2 separate regions of the Homo sapiens genome follow, and region 1 is linked to region 2. The links come from fine-mapping of genetic effects on gene expression. A gene starts in region 2. The other region holds a variant in brackets. All regions are shown on one strand. Distances are from middle to middle.

Region 1 (8,347 bases), 66 kb after region 2:
ACGAAAAAGGTATTTCTGTACTAGTAAGGCAGCAAATTATGCAAAAGCATGAACTACTATTGTGGTTGTAGGCCACAAATGGTAGGGACCTATCAAGAGGACACAAGAACCAGCTTGAAAGGACTCTCCCTGGTGACTTCTGAGACAAAGTAATGTCAGTAATGGATTACAATCCATTGAACAAAAAAAGAATACATGGTTCCCTGTTGATATAAACAGTAAGTGTATAAAAAAATCAACAGGGAGAAAGACAAGTTCTTTCTTACAATAGAATATCAACCAATAAATGTAGAAGAAATGACAAGTTAGAAAACTATCATTCGGAAATTATCAAAATAATTGATTCAGGCAGGAGTCACCAGTGGAGGCTGAAACTAATGAGTGAAAGTGTGGTGAGGATCAGGATATTTACATAGTTTCAGAATATCTTCCACAAATTGCTCATTAATTGTCAGATAGAAAAATAATAACTTTACATTGGAAAATTCTAAAAAAATGCCACCTTAATAAAATAAAATAAAATAATGCCACCTTAATAAAATAAAGTTCATGTCACCAATGATGGGACATGAACCAACAACATATGCCTCCTGATATGAAGCACTAAGAAGGACACACATCGTTCTGTAGCATTTCTGCCCCAAAATACCTAATCCGAATCTAATTATGAGGAAGTATTAGACAACTGAGGGACATTTTAGTCTATCTCTCTTGAAAAACTGTGTACTCTTCAAAATTCCTTATACTCTGCAAAAATGTCAAAGATGAAATATCATTAAAAAATGCTGAGAGGCCAGGCACAATGGTTCACACTTGTAATCCCAGCACTTTGGGAGGCCGAGGTAGGTGGATCGCTTGAGCCCAGGAGTTTGATCCCAGCCTGGGCAACACAGTGAGACCCCATCTCTTAAAAAAATGCAAAAATTAGCCAGGTGTGGTGATGTGTGCCTGTAATCCTAGCTACTTGGGAAGCTGAAGTGGGAAGATCACATGAGCCCAGGAGGTCGAGGCTGCAGCGAGCCAAGATCATAACACTGTGTTCCAGCCTGGATGACAGAGCGAGATTCTATCTAAAAAAAAACAAAAAAACAAAAAAACTGAGGAACTGTTCCAATTTAAAAGAGTGTAAAGAGTTATAACAACTAAATGCTATGTTCAGTCCTAGATTAGATTCTGGACCAAGGAGAGGAAAGTAACTAGAAAGGGCATGATTGGGACAATTGAAGAAATTCAAATATAGACTGTGGATTAGATAATGTCATTGCATCATGTTAAATTTTCTGATATTGATAATTATACTTTTGTTATCCTACAAAATGTATTTATTATGAAGTATAGATATTGAAACACTTAAATGTAAGGAGGCAAAATGTTTCCAACTTATTCTCAGGTACAGAAAAATATGAATGTGTGTATATATATTTATTTATACATAAATATTTATGTATAGAGAGAAGGGAGAGTGAATGATAAAACAAATGGGAAAAATGTAAACAGTTTGTGGATCTGGATAAACAGAATATGAGAGTTATGTAATCTTTTCTCATAGCTTTTTTCTAAGTTTGAAAATATATACAAAAGAGTGACAAAAAAATGTTGAAAAGCAAAATTTTCTCATCAGTAAAGGCAGTCATTTACATTGTACTGTGATGAAAAAGAAAAGCCTGGCTTATTCAAATAAGCAGCCAAAGCTCTTATTTCCTAGTCATCAGTTATCTTTGCGTGCTTTGAAGTTGGAGTTCTCTTTCATGTTTGTATTGTTTTTATTTGTTTGTAAGTATAATGTGGGAACCAAAAAGAGTGAAAATGGGACACTCTGGTAAGTTATCTCTACCACTTTAGGGGACAGGAAGCAGCTGACAAGCTTTAGCACTACATTTTCATGGTTGTTTCCCAAGAATGGCCATAAATTACATCCTTCAAGTCAGTCCCAACTAGTGGGAATTCATATGAAAAATTACTTGCTGGTTCTCAAGCTTCTTGCACGTCCCTCTTGACATTTTGTCATAGGAAAACTGGGGGTGGATGGATTGTAAAATATTTCTCAACATTACAAAACATTTTAAAGCTGATACCAGACCTACACTCATATCTGCTGATTACAAATAATTCTAAGCTATTCTGGTATGCCCTGAGCATCTGTCTTATATGCAAAATAAGTGGCCTCTTCTGTTTTCCCCTGTCTTCTTGAACTGTCTGTCTCTTTTCAAAAACTGTGTATTCTTCAAAATTCCTGCAATGCCGAATGAAAAACGGAGGCCATCCACTACAGTGGAAAATGTAGAGCAACTCCAAGAAAAGAGGCTGGAAGAAAAGACAGGCTTAGAGATGTCTGACAGACTTGAAGATGGTTTCCATTTTCCCATTTTGCAAGAGGGGCAATGGATCCTCTAACAACAGAGCCTGAGTTAGTATGTTATCATGTATTACCTCGTTTAATCCCCTCAATATCTCTATGAGATAGGCACTATTTTTATCCCTATTTTGTAGCTCAGATACAGGCTTAGAGGTTTAGAGAAGTAAATAACTTGTCAAATGTGAGTAGTAGGGTTGAGATTTGCACGAAAATGCGCCTGACTTCAGGGTCTGACTTAAGCTTAAACTGCCTTGTTTTATTGATCATATTGATCACTCTATTTCTTTCTCCTGAGGACTCGCAAAGCAATGATAATACCATTCTGCTCTTGCATCATTTGTTGCACATTCTTGTTTAGAAAGAAAATACTAACAACTATTAGAGATTTTCTGAACCTAGTAATTTCATTAACAAGCATTCCCCAAGTCTACAGGGCAAATTTTTTGATACTCACAATGTTACTTCTTGTGAAAATTTTGAAGTGATTTCTGAATCATCAGAGAGATAGAGATTAAAGTGACACTGTTTTAAAAGTTGGTAATTATCATACAATTGCATGAAAGCTGATGTGGTATTTGTGGTAAACTTCCGTATTAGGATGGGTAAGCCTGTATGGCAGGGTTCTTAACCTGAACTCCAGATCCAGCAAAGGGTCCACAGGTAGATTTCAGGGGGTCTGTGAACTTGTATGGGAAAACATTTCATCTACATTTTCATGCACCCTTAAATGACATTTGGCACTGCCTTCCATGATGAATGTAGAAACAAATCACAGTGTTAGCAATACCTGTGACTTTGTCCCTAATAGAAATGATGGATATTTCCATTCGTATCAGTTGTTGCTGATATCTCAAAATGTTATTTTTCGTCATCATTAATGTGAAATCATAATTAATAAGCTCAAGACCAGATTATATTGAACATATTAATAAAGAATGTAATTACTATATCACCTATTTATTTTAAAAAATGTTTTTCTAACAGTATATCAATATTTATAAATATATATATATATTTTTTTATTATACTTTAAGTTTTAGGGTACATGTGCACTTTGTGCAGGTTAGTTACATATGTATACATGTGCCATATTTCATCATAGTTGATTTTATTTGTAATGACATATATTTTATATATATTTAAAAAGTATTATTATGAGAAATAGTTCAAAGGCTGTGCACAAATGGTTTACAGCACAAAAGGGGTGAAAGATCCAGCTCTATAATATAAACTTCATGGTAGCCCTAGTGGAGAATACCCTTGCTTAACAACTGGCTGTTTTCAGAGTCCCCTGGGGGCCCTGCAGTGACTCCAGGAGTAGAGAAAGGCTGTAAATGCTAGAACAAGATAATTGTCAGGTACTACCAAGAAGCCCTACCCAGCCTTCCCAATTAGAAGACAGGAGTCCCCCAATCCCAACCACTTTCAGGTCCTAGTTTCTGCCCAACCCCATTACCTGTTCTTCTTACTCAATTTTAATGAAAGCAGCTCTACTGGCAGCAACTTCATTGTGACCCCAGTGCTCTGGCAAGCTGGGCCTGTGTCAGCAGGCCACAGGGGTGGATGAGAGCCAAGACTTTTGTGATTGCCTCTACCC[T/A]CATTTTCCTGTGGAAACACAGCTCAGAAGGACTATGCTGGAGGGTTGATCAGCTTGGTTATGTATTTGCTTTGCGGAAACCTTAAGTTGTCCTTTTATGTGTCACTTTCTCTCATTTCATTTTTTTAATCCTTTATTTTCCAACAGGCAGGTTCTGGTCACACCTACCCAGGTGGCACCAGGTGTGTGCATGTTTTTCCAAAAGTTACAATGCAGCATAGACACTGGAAAATGAAGATGAAAAAACACAGTGGTGTTAGATTACTTCATATACTTCAACACCATGCCTGCTTTTTCCTTTTTTTAATTGCTTGTTTTATATTCTTTATTTAGTTTTTTCCAGTCTGAATATCTCTTAGCTGAGTTTCTTATCCCAATTAATCATTTTATACATACACTGGTTTCTTTTCCAAGTCTCTTTGTAAAGCAAGAATCAATATGAGGTGTCAGTGTCTAAAGCCTTCACACTTAGCAACTTAACATTTTAAAAAATGAAAATATATAATACTACAATTTCATTTAAATTAACTATTCTGAAGCTCCTCCATCAAATATTAGGAAAGACCCTTTTAAAGTTTAATACATTTTTAAAATTCTAGGTATGAAAATTCTGTTTACATAATAGTCTTTAAGTTGCTGTCTCACCTAAATAAGACACAGAGGCAGTGTTTATGAATATGATTGCCGAGTGAGATTGAGACAAATTTCAACCTACATTGATTGTCCTATTTGGCAGGAGACCAACGAGCTGCCACATAATGTACGCACCAGAAGACTGGCTATGTTCTTTGGCCATCAGCGGATGTCCATGGTTGCTGCCTATAATTGCAGTGTTTTTCCCATTCTGCAAATTTCTCATTAATCAGGTTACTTTAGCTATTTGGCCAAATTTTCCTCGAAGAAAATGAAATACAATCAATCCCTGATTCTTTTCTGATTATTAGAGACACTGCTCTCCTTCATAAGGAACAATAATCAAAGTAGAATTTATATTTGGCTTCATAATGCAATATGTGAGTTTTTCCAACAGATTTGCCCTCTTAATTGCTTTGGTCTGGCAAACTTTAAAAGGAACTTGCCTTACGTGGATGGCAGTATGAGGTTGTCCAGAACTGAACCGGGTGGTTGGCAATCTGAACAAAGCTTCTGTGCTTTATTGATTGCCAGGGAGACTCGGGGGCTAAATGGCAAGCCAAAAGACAAGGATTCAGAATATATAACTGTACTAGTTTGCTAGCACTGCCTCAACAAAGTACCACAAGCTGGGGGGCTTAAACAACAGAAATTTACTGCCTCATGCTTCTGGAGGCTAGAACTCCAAAATCAAGGCGTCAGAAGGATTGGTTCCTTCCAAAGTCTGTAAGGGAGGATCTGTTCCCTGCCTCTGTCCTAGCTTCTGGTAACCTCAGGCCGTCCTTGGCTTGCAGATGGTGTTCTCCTTATGTTTCCATATCATCTCTCTGTGTGTGTCTGTCTCTGTGTCCAAATTTCCCCATTTCATAAGAACATAGTCATATTTAATCACTTAGGGCTTACTCCAATGAAATCATCTTAGCTTGATCATCAACAAAGATCTTATTTTTAAATAAGGTCACATTCACAGATACTAAGATTAGGACTTCAGTGTCCTTTGAGGGGACACAATTCAACCCATAACACTATCTATCTTGAAAAATCACCAGAGAGGATAATTTATAGCCATTGGTAAAATTTATGCAAATCATACAATTTCCCTTCAGTCAATGCATTTATTCTGGGTGCCATATTTAGATGATAGGCTGCCAAAAGTAATGCACCGTGAATATTCTTTTTCTTTATATTATAAAAGCTATTCAATTACTCCTGGATTTTCCAGGAACTATGGTTCTCTAGTTCCTTATAAATCTCAATGGTATTTTTCTGAATCTTACTGCTTTCCTTTTATTTATAAATACTAGACTCTCCCACTTTAAGCAAATTTCTAAAGACTGGGGTAAAAGATCTCTTTTGTGAGCAAAGTGCATGTCTAGGGCCCTGTTATTTAAGAAATTTAAGATCATCAATTTCAAACATTCAAAGCCTATACTGCTGGTTCATATTTTTCACTATCCAGAACAGTAATCTTCACAATGGTTAGCTGTGTTCTCTAAAAGTCGCAGATAATTGTTATCACATTTAAAATCAAGCACCCATCACAACTCCCCAGTTCTTTCTTTTAGGAAAACCTAAAGAAACCTTGGATGACCTTAAGACTCTATGGAAAAGCTGGAAAAACACTGACCCAGAAAACAAATGTGTAACAAGTCACATTTTTTCCATTACTTAAGGGAAATTGTGGTGCGAATTTTTTTCTTAATCTCTCTGCTAAGTGTAAATATGTGACTCACCCGAACTACCTCATTCTTAGACCATAAATATTAGGAGTGATGACTTATAAGGGGCTCATGTTCATGTGTGGTAAGTAAATACTTGTCTGCACATATTAATTTAACAAGAAAATGGCATTTTCCTAAGTAGCATAACATCAGAAACAGTAGAGAATTTAATATAAGTAAAAAGCAGTGTTATATTTTAAGAAAATTACTATGATGAAAGAATTCATTTTTTTCAAAGAGTAATATAATAATATTAGGCTTTAATACCTAAGAACATGCATGCTAGATCTGGTTCCAATCCAAAAAAGTTCTATGAAACTTCAAATACCATGTGAAGGTTAACTTTTAAAAATACATTTCTTCAGAGCAAATTTCTATTCCTAGTCCATGCGAAACCACAGGGTGGTGCTCCAGCTGGACTGGTTTCCTCAATTCAAGTTATCCTTGTCCAGTTTCCTTCTTAGGGCACTGCTACATGAAAACCTGATGTGTTCTGTGTTCTTGCAGCAAACTCCTACTGTGTCCTATCTTGGCTCAGGCAGGACAAAATGAAGCTCTCCATCTCTAGGAGGTGGCTTGCTTCAGAGCCTTCTCTGTCCAAAACAAGAGTTTTTTCCATATTGTTTCTCTCTAGGCTTTTGAAATTAGAGGGGAAACACTATGGATAATAGCTTCAGAAAATATGAAAAGCTCACCTATTACAGCAGATGGGACTGAAGTATCAGTCCATATCTAAGGCAGGTGAATTGGTGCATTTGAAGCATTCCAAGTCAGTAGGACAGCCAGAAATATGAAATGAAAAGCACTAGTTTTCCTTAGCAATGAAATTTTGACTCCTATGACTTTGCTAATGCTGTGTTCTGCTTTCCTTTCTGCCTATTCTATTTGTACAACCTTCTGTGCCTTCCTCAGATGGCTTTCCAAAACATCTGTGGGCAATATTCCCTTCACTGAACAGCAATGGTACTTTAAGTGCAAAACAAAACAGCATTTACCTTTTGCAATTTATAGTTCCTGGGTTATTTCATGTGCCTTGTGGTTATCTCAGGAGCCCTTTATTAATCTCCGAACTGTAGGCAAGAAGGTGGTCTTGTTGTCATGGTAATAACTTCAGTACTTAGCACATGGAACGCAGCATTTATTGTAAAATACTTTTCCAATCAAATGGTTGCAGCAGTTTTAGAAGTCATAACAGTAAGGGTAGCATGCAGTTCATGAATTCCTTCATCAGGAGGAAAAGACTGACCTGATTTATAAAGGAAAAGGAAGCATAATAAAAGTGGAATTCTGTTAACCTAACCATATTAGTTCTCTTTGCTTAGAGTTAGGGGGTGTCCAATCTTTTCCAAGAAAACTTTGTATATTCTGGCAGTGCCCTCTGGTGGATGATTTACTATGATCCACTACCATTCAGTTCCTGGACATTACATTTCACCTGAAAGATTTCTACCTTTTGTTACCACTTAGCATTTTTCCCCCCATCTCAAGATGAATAGTGTTTTCTTTCAAAGTTTCTTGAATATCTACATCTACAATCTACAACAAATGCCACTGGATTGTGGTTTGTAAGGAATATCTAAGGTGAATTCCAGCAAAGTGAATATCAGTTTCTACCACTTATTACTTTCAAAGTCATTAAATTGCTAATATGGGTGCAATTTGGCTGTTGCGTGGAAACACTTGGCTTGGGTATGTTTATGTAAATGGTTCAAAGCTGTGGACTGTGTATCTGGCAAGCTGCTTCTAAGAAACAAAGGAGAAATAGGCATGTTTTCCATTTAAAAGACATGTGGTTCTTATTGACTTACCGAGATTGGTTTTTGTTTTTGCTTTGTTTTATTTTCAAAGTCAGTTTTCCACTCTAAGATTAAGTGTGTTCATTATAGAAAACGTAGAAAATACAGAGGAAAAAAATCACCCATAGTCACAACAAAACCAAGACTGATTTTGGATGTAGCCTACGGAGGTAGAATGCTCCCCTGGGGTAGATTTTAGAAACAGGCTGTAGTGGACCAAAGGGGAGCATGGCATTAAGTTTCC
Region 2 (8,347 bases):
TCTGAACCCAGTTGCTTTAGTAGCCCTGAACCCTAATCTCTCACTGATGTTTGGGCTTCACTTTCATGGATATGGGCCCTTAAAATGCCCCCAACAAGAAAATTTGTGTGCCTGTGAGGCTAAACTCCAGTACATCCCCTCTGTCAGATGTGCAGCCCTGCCTTGGTTGTTTGCCAATGCTTCCAAACAGCTATTTTGTATATTTTGGTTAGCCTTTATAGTTGTTCCCAGTAAACAGGAAAGTTCAATCTCAGCTAAAATCAGTCTTGCCTTTGCCTAATATTTAACTAAATAAATGGTAACAGCAATTAAATACTCATCCCAAAGTCAAAAGATAATCATTAGTAGCAACAAAATAAGGAAATGAGTATAATTTCTTGCCATGTAACTTCAAAATGAAATAAAGAAAATAAACGATCATGATATAGAAAGTCCTGGCTTTCCAGAAGCAGTACTGATGAGTGATCAAATCGTAAGTATTATTTCTCACCAGTTAAGAATGTCTGCAAATTTGGAGTGAAATGAACTGAGCAACTACACTTACCCTTTTCTGATGGGAGGAGAGGGCAGAGTGAGTAGTCATAGTAGAAATGGCTTGGGAGAGAGAGTAGAGGGCTCCAAGAATGAATGAAGAGTGCAATCTCAGGCTTAAGGGAATCTTTCTGAAACAGTATGTGATCCTGATGGCCTGCATTAAATCCTGAGACAGAGTCTTTAGTAAAACCTGAGAACAAAAGCAGAGCATGTAACCTCTCTCAGAGGCTGCACAGAGACTCAGAAGCCCTCACCTTCTCATCTCGGGATGGTAGACAGAATGCAATGCTCACCTTCAAACCATTGCTTTATAGAAAAAACAAACAGGCCTCAGACAAGGTAGGAATGAAGTCAAGCACAATTAACTGAATTTGTATCATAGCAAATATGAGTCTTGATCTAAAAAAGAAACCAATAATAAATATAAAAACACACTACACAGGAAAAAAAAGGAGGAGAAGGTCATTGTAAGCAAAAGTAGGCTAATAACAAATTTAAAAACAACAAGAAAAGGAAGAAACAGGTATTCTCAATTATACAATACAGCACCTGCAAGACCTTCTTGAAAACATTGCTTAATGAAGATATCAAGGGATGAATCAAAATAATCAATAATAGAAAAAACATGATAAAAGAATCAATGAAAGAAATTTATTCTATTTAAATATAGAACTAAGTTTAAACCACTTTGGGAATGAGAGTTATAAGTGGAAAGTGAATGTTACAAATCTTGACAATGAACAAACGAAACCTGTGTAAAAATATAGAAGGAGGGAAGAAAAAAAGAGACATAATAAAAGAGCTATTTTCTTCTTTTTAAATAGCAAACAGTCAGTTGATATTGACTAAAACAAATATATGTTTAAGCATAATGAATTCAGATCTGGTTTTATGTAATAATTCAAACTGTAAAGGAATCTTTAGGGTGAATATCTCATGAAGTAAGTGACTATCTCATGAAGTGAGTAAATATCTAAAGTTTGGTCAGCCTTTAATGTTCACTTTAATTTTGTTATCTTCTGCTTCATTAAGTGTACTTTTAAATTAAAAATAGCATCTACAGGATGATGACACTTAGCATATCTGTGCCATTTCACATACCTGTCCATCAGGATGTCTGTTTTCTACAATATCTGGAATGATGATGGTCCCCTTATGTTAACAATGGTTATTATTTCTGGATAGTGTGATTCTGGGGATGATTTTCTACATCTTTGTATTTTTCTACTGTTTGAATTATTTATAACAAACATGATTAACAGCTACACAGACATACACACACACAATTCCAGTTTCTAACATGCTTTGTGGTTATATCAACACTTCGTCTACTTGTTTTGTGTTAGAGGTTTTAGCTGAAGCCTAAGGCCAGGCTAAGAGACTTGAATGTGACAAGGACTTCCCCTTTCCCCAGGAGAATTCTTGCCCAGCAAACATATGTCATGGAACCGTAAGTACAAAGTGTCCTCTGCCCTTCTTACTGATCCATGAGGCAGGCAGCACAAGAGAGCGTGCCTCTTTTTGCTGCTTTAGAGACAAAGGAAGCAGCCCGCAGAATATAGGATACATACGGAAGATGTAACACAGTGGGAGTCAGGCTCCAAGATAGCTACTTCATCTATCTTAGAGCAGCACATCAAGAACTGCAGATGTGTATGCAAATGCCTCCCTAGTTGAGGGAGGAATGCTGTTGTTATATGGGCTAAGCAGGAAAATGGAGAGAATCAGGTTCCATAGGCAAGTTCCAAAAGAACTACTACAAATGGGACCTGGCTTGGGCCCTCTTCGAAAACTTACTATTATTATTTTTTTCTTGAGACAGAGTCTCTTTTTGTCACCTAGGCTGGAGTGCAATGGCACGATCTTGGCTTGTTACAACCACCGCCTCTGGGGTTCAAGTGATTCTCTTGCCTCAGCCTCTGGAGTAGCTGGGATTACAGGCTCCTTCCACAACGCCTGGCTAATTTTTATATTTTTAGTAGAGATGGGGTTTCACCACGTTGGCCAGGCTGGTCTCGAACTTCTGACCTCAGGTGATCCGCCCATCTCAGCCTCCCAAAGTGTTGGGATTACAGATGCGTGCCACCACGCCTGGCTAATTTTTTGTATTTTTAGTAGAGACGCTGTCTCTACCCATGTTGCCCAGGCTGGTCAATAACTCTTATTAAATAAGAGTGGCAAAGTGGGAATTCCAACTCAAGTCTCTGTAAATAGTATATTTACAGATATAGGGTCACAGATTTTTTTTTTTTTATTAAATCTTGCCCTGAGTATAAGATTTAATGGGGGAAACAAGGTAACATGTGAAACCTGAACACCTTAATGCCACACGATTCCATGTAATTGGAATTCTGTAAGATTCTATATAATGAATCTGGGTAATTATTATCCCATCCCAGACTTCAAAGATCTTCTGCATGCTAAGACACCAAAGTCTCTCTCTTTTCCAGGCCTCTTTCTTAAATGTCGCAGCCCCATACATTCAATTTCTTACTGGATGGTCTATCCTAAATCCAGTATGTAAAAAAGCTCAAACATATCCTATCACAACTTCTTCTTTATCTTAATTCATTCAATTCAGTAGGTATTCTTTAACTACCTACTATATGCCAGGCTGTAGGTATACACACTGTATGGATGATGCTGGGAATACAGAAGTCACACATGGTACATTCCTGGCTTCTGGGAGCTCACAGATTAATGGAGAGGACTAAGGGGCAGAAATGAGTACAACACAAACACAATGATAAGATCACAGGGTCCTGTGAGATACAGAGGGAGGCATCTAATCCAGATGTATGTGGTGTGGAGGGAGGGGTACATTAGTGATCAGGAAACTCATAAACCATACAATGTTTGAGCTTTCTCAAAGAACCAGCAGGGCAGCTCCTGCTCAGCTAGGCAACTCCTCTTTTTGCCATAGATCTAGCTGTTCCATTCAGCCATTCACTCGTGGCTGCAGTGACCTTCCAGGTCAGTCTGGACTCTGGAAATTGCCTCCATGGTTACCTCCCTTCCCATTGATGACATTCTACAGATCGTTCAGTTTGCCCTAGGCCCCTGTCTGTTCTATATAACACTGGTTTTCTGGAAGCCGTTTGGTATCTTGGTAAGAATACCCAGATTTATAAGGGAAAAACAATAACATAAGTGCCTCCTGCTTCTTTGCTCAGATGTTTCAGTTTTTGGGAGATCATTTAGCCTCTCTGAAGCTCACCTCCTCATCTGTGAAAGGCTAGTAATTATAATACTAGTTCTTACATGAAGAGAGGGTGTAAAAATCAAATCAGATGAGGGATATGAAAGCAGGTCCAGCACAGCTCGCATATTAATTGTCTTTGTTAGGGTCTGAGCATAATGGAGTATGACTCCAATGCAAATCCTATAAATGCTGATCCTGTAAGGAGGACGAGAAGCTTTTGGAACTTTCTCAAATATATGAATAGAATTTCAATTGAATTCCTTGTTTGTTTTTCCTAGCATCTCTCAGTTCCCAATCCAGTCTGGATTTCATTCCAGCCATTTACTAGCCTTGCGTTACCTTCTCCTTCAGTTTCCTCTTGGGTATCATGGAGATAATTAAAGATACTTCAAAGAGATATTGCGAGGATCATTTGAAATAAGGAATAGAAAACACCACGTAGTGATGCTTTCTTAGGCAAGGTTTTGACCGAGGAAAGCCGCCCTTCGGTGGGAGCCTGGAGGCTTGGAAATAACCAGTGAAAAAGGGAAGCCCGTCTTGGGTGCAGCACGTTAAAGACCCAAGCTCGCAAGCCTGGGAGGCAGCGCGGCGGGAGGAGCCTGCCCCTGCCCCCAGTAGGGGGCGCCGAAGCGCCGCACTGCAGCATCCTGGCCGCTGAGCGCAGCGGCCTTGGCCGGGCTCAGCTCGCGTCCTGCCGCAGTCCCTCCGCCGCTAGTCGGAGCGAGCGCGAGTGAGGAGACCCCCGCCGGGCCACTGGCACTTGCTTCTGCGGCGAGTCCCACCCACGACCGCAGCCCAGCAACTCGCAAACGCAACCTGAAGCCTGGGCTGCGCAGTGTGGGAGGGCTTCGCGATCTTGGGGGACCCATTCCGAACTTGCAGAGGACCGTAGCTCTCCTGGCCTGGAGAGTGTGAACAGGTGAGTGTCACGCACGTGTCCAGGCAGCTCTTTCGGGACGACTTCCTGCAGACCCATTCCGAGCCCTGAGCGCGCTCGGCCTCTGAGTCGGTCCTCTTGGTCACCGGGTTCTCCTCCCAGGGCGGCTTTGGGGTTCGCTGCGAGGGAGATGTGAACACCAGCAGCCTATCTTGACAGGGCTCTCCTAGCTGAGAGGGAAAATGCCCTTTTGACTTAAGGCTGCATTTTCTCCCTAGCCTGAAAGCAAGTGACTTGCAGTCCACAATGGATTTGTTTATTCTTGCAAGATACCTGTTGAGTTCAGAGCAACATTAAATAGCCAAGGGGCTTATACAATTATCCTGGTTTGCTGTGGGTACTGCGTAGTGATAAGAAGAGGAAGAATTCCTAGTAATGAGACCAGGAAAACTTGATTTCAGAACCAGAGAAGGGGAGGCCAAAAAAGAAGAGAATCTCATTTCCAGGCCTAGACTAGGGTCTTTGCTTCCCTAAATAGCTACACTTGATTTTGATGAGCGCATGCAAACAGAAGTTCCAAGCATGATTACCTTATAAAGACGCTTGCTTGCCCCACCCCCAAGAGGAAGTAGAAAGCATGAACCTTGATAAATATAGCCTTGAGAATGATTTATTAGGAATGAAAACTTTCTTTAAATAAGTAAGTAAATAAGGTTACAGTTATCTAAATATCATAGGTCTAACAGAGTGTAAGCTCTTCGAAGGGAACTACTTTTATTTGTATGTGCATAGCGTGAAAGTGTGGAATAAATCAATGAATGCATCACTAATAATACAGGATTTTAGCTAGCGTTTTTCCTTTTTCCTTTAATTTATGTTTAGGGAAAAAAAAACCTACACCTTCAAACTAAATAGGTATGATTTTACCTTTAGAGTGATAGCAGCTGAGATGTTTTTGTCCTAATAAGCACCATCCACATAAAAAGTGAATGGCAAATTTCAGCCCTACTCAGAATATTTCAGCAGAACATTAGGACAAATGGATTTTCTTAGATCCACGTATGGAAGCTCTCAGATTATGAATTATTTGGAACATCAGAAACTTGGCAACAGTTTACTTATTACAACAATTTACATATTTATTTTTGTTTTCTATCTTGTCAAATGTAACTTTTCACATTTTCATGTGAGAAATAAAATGTTGAAGAACTCCTGTCAGTTTTGTGTCTTCCTTTAAGTGATTTTTCTAAACATAAAATTAGGTTGACAATAACCAGCTGTATCTTTATTAGGTTATAAATGGAAAAAATAGCCCACACAATTTCTCTTTCTTATGTGAAATTCCTATGCCTCTGGGGCCATTTGGGAGTTACTAAAAAATGTGACTTGTCATTTTTTTAAAATCACATTTGATGGCTACTTTCATGAAACATTAATCAGACAGATAATTACTTGCATTTTATATCCATGTATATGAACAGTTTTGCATGAAACAAAATTATTGTTTATACTAGCTGCAGACACTTGCGTGTTCAATGTTTCAAAGAAATACTTGCCAGCACCTCTTCTCATTTATAATTTAAATAGTTAATATATCTCCACATATTATGTTTCTGTGATGAAGCCCTGAACCTTAAAAACATAGGGCCTTTTCTTAATGAATGCATCTAAAGTGACAAATAAGGAAATCTTTTTATCTTTAGCCAAAAATATGGGACTGGACAAATTGCAGATGTTTAAGCTTCTGGTTTTTGCTAATAATGATTACTTAGACACTTTGTCATTATTGAGGATGAAGTAAACAATAGCTAATGTTAATGTTGATTTTTCCTTCCTTCAGAGGAAGCTCTGGCACTTTGAAAATCAGCAAATACAAAACCTTATTAGGTACAGGATGATAGCTTAAATACCTAAGGAAGAAAACAATTACATGATAATGTCTTTGTAGAAATACTTTTTCAGGCGGATTTTCACTTTTTAATTTCTCTCTCAAGAAGCTCTTTGTAAAAATTTATAGATGGAAAAATCTGGCAGGAACATTTAACACATTTAGATAACATATTTGTGTTTAAAACATCTTTACTGCCTTGAAAATGGAATGAATTATGCAGACTGGTGTGATTAAGATTAACACGGGTAAAAGTGCTGTGCTGTATTTAGGTTTAAGCCATTGATTGCAAATGTTCGGAATGAGGGGGTCTGCAGTCCGTGTAAAAGATGTGAGGCTTAATGTGATTGGCTGTGCTACAGTATAACCATGGTGGGCAGATTAACGATAGTGAAAATCTCAGGGAATTTACACCGGGTCAGTTTGTCAGGTCATATCTCAAAGTGGAATGCAGTGGACACCATGCTTTTAGAGTGATTAAGATGTTGAGGAGGCAATGCACATGATGAAAAAGGGAGTGAAGGTCAAAAAAACATAAACGAGAGTGTACATTCCGGGAAGAACAAGTGGACAGGCTGGGCCTCATGTTCCTAGAAAAAAGAAGCCTAGGATGGAGCAAAGGGTCCTACTAGATGCTAGGATCCTTGAACGGTTCTGAGTGAAAGAAAAAGTTGACTTGTTTTGAGTTATTTCATAGAGAGAAATGAGGACAAATGAGTAGAAGCCGCAGGGAGACAGTTTAGAGCTCAATATTAGAAAGATAGTTCCTCCTAATTGGAGAAATGAAGCAGCTTTCAGAAGTAATGAGCCCACCTTTCATACCTGGAAGTGGTAAGTCAGGCATGGAATATGGAATGATTGTTATGTCCTAAGGAAAGATTCTTGCTAGAAGAATGGCTAGAAGATTTCTTCAGATGACCCCCACTCCAGCCCCCACCACCACCAAAGCTCTTTCCAAATTTACGTTTCCATGATCCTAAGAACCTAGATGTCACTCCTAAAGCACCAAACTAAATAAGATGTGCTTACTTTGTACATAATGTTATTTCCCAAGCTTTAAGACAGCACTATAAACAAATTTACTTGAAGTCATCATAGAAAAGGAATAACTTGGAGCATGGCATTTATCGTTTTTGTACCAGGGCATTGTGTCCAGCAAAATATAGAAATGTAATCTATGTATTATATATTGATTCCTAGAACATGTGTATCTGTATCTGTCACAGGAATTCATCATGTGATCAAGTGTGAATTGAGAAAAAATTTAACTTTGAGATGCAAAATTGAATTGTGTTGCATTGGAGTTGACTAATATGAATGTATGTTATTCAACCCAAAGAGACATGAAGAGGCCCAAAAGTGACTCTCTCCATTGCCCCACTGCATGTGTTTGTACACTGAATGCTTACAGATAGATGGTAAATGTGTGTATTCACTTTTACTTTCAGTTACTATCAAGAATCAATACCTTCATAAGAAAATTTCTTGAGGAAGTACTTTAGAAATGCTATTGTGTGTGATAATGCACGTTTTAGTACCAACCAGATCCAAATCCAAGTCCTGAATCTACCATTTATTAGTTAAATCATTTACAGTAAGTTACCATAGACTTCTCACAGGATAGTGGTAAAGATCAAACCAGAAAATGTTGAAAAAGTGAATGGTGGCTGGCATATAGTAGATGCTCAATAAATATTAATTCATTTTCCAGTCACTTATGAATTCCCAAATTTCTTTTGTTTAAGGATTGTGGACTCTTCCAAGATTCACAATGATATGGTGAATCCAAAGACTGGAACCAAAAAGATTTACTCAGTGCTTTAGTTTTAACAACAGTAAATTGTCT

Evidence for each region.
Region 1: its variant is fine-mapped to the expression of RERG in subcutaneous fat (TwinsUK, PIP 0.95).

Annotation. Positions count from the first base shown.
Region 1 is chr12:15,151,026-15,159,372 of GRCh38, reverse strand. The region is part of intron 2 of RERG (RAS like estrogen regulated growth inhibitor); the gene reads left to right. RERG-AS1 (RERG antisense RNA 1) reads right to left here and starts at 7,450. Exons shown (of 3, transcript NR_046559.1): 1 at 7,303-7,450; 2 at 5,033-5,133; 3 at 4,090-4,177. The variant T/A (reference allele first, on the strand shown) is at 3,954.
Region 2 is chr12:15,217,503-15,225,849 of GRCh38, reverse strand. It overlaps RERG (RAS like estrogen regulated growth inhibitor), which reads left to right and starts at 4,433. Exons shown (of 5, transcript NM_032918.3): 1 at 4,433-4,655; 2 at 8,247-8,347. It overlaps LOC124902886, which reads right to left and starts at 5,182. Exons shown (of 1, transcript XM_047429948.1): 1 at 3,872-5,182. The coding sequence starts at 4,605. The coding sequence ends at 4,288.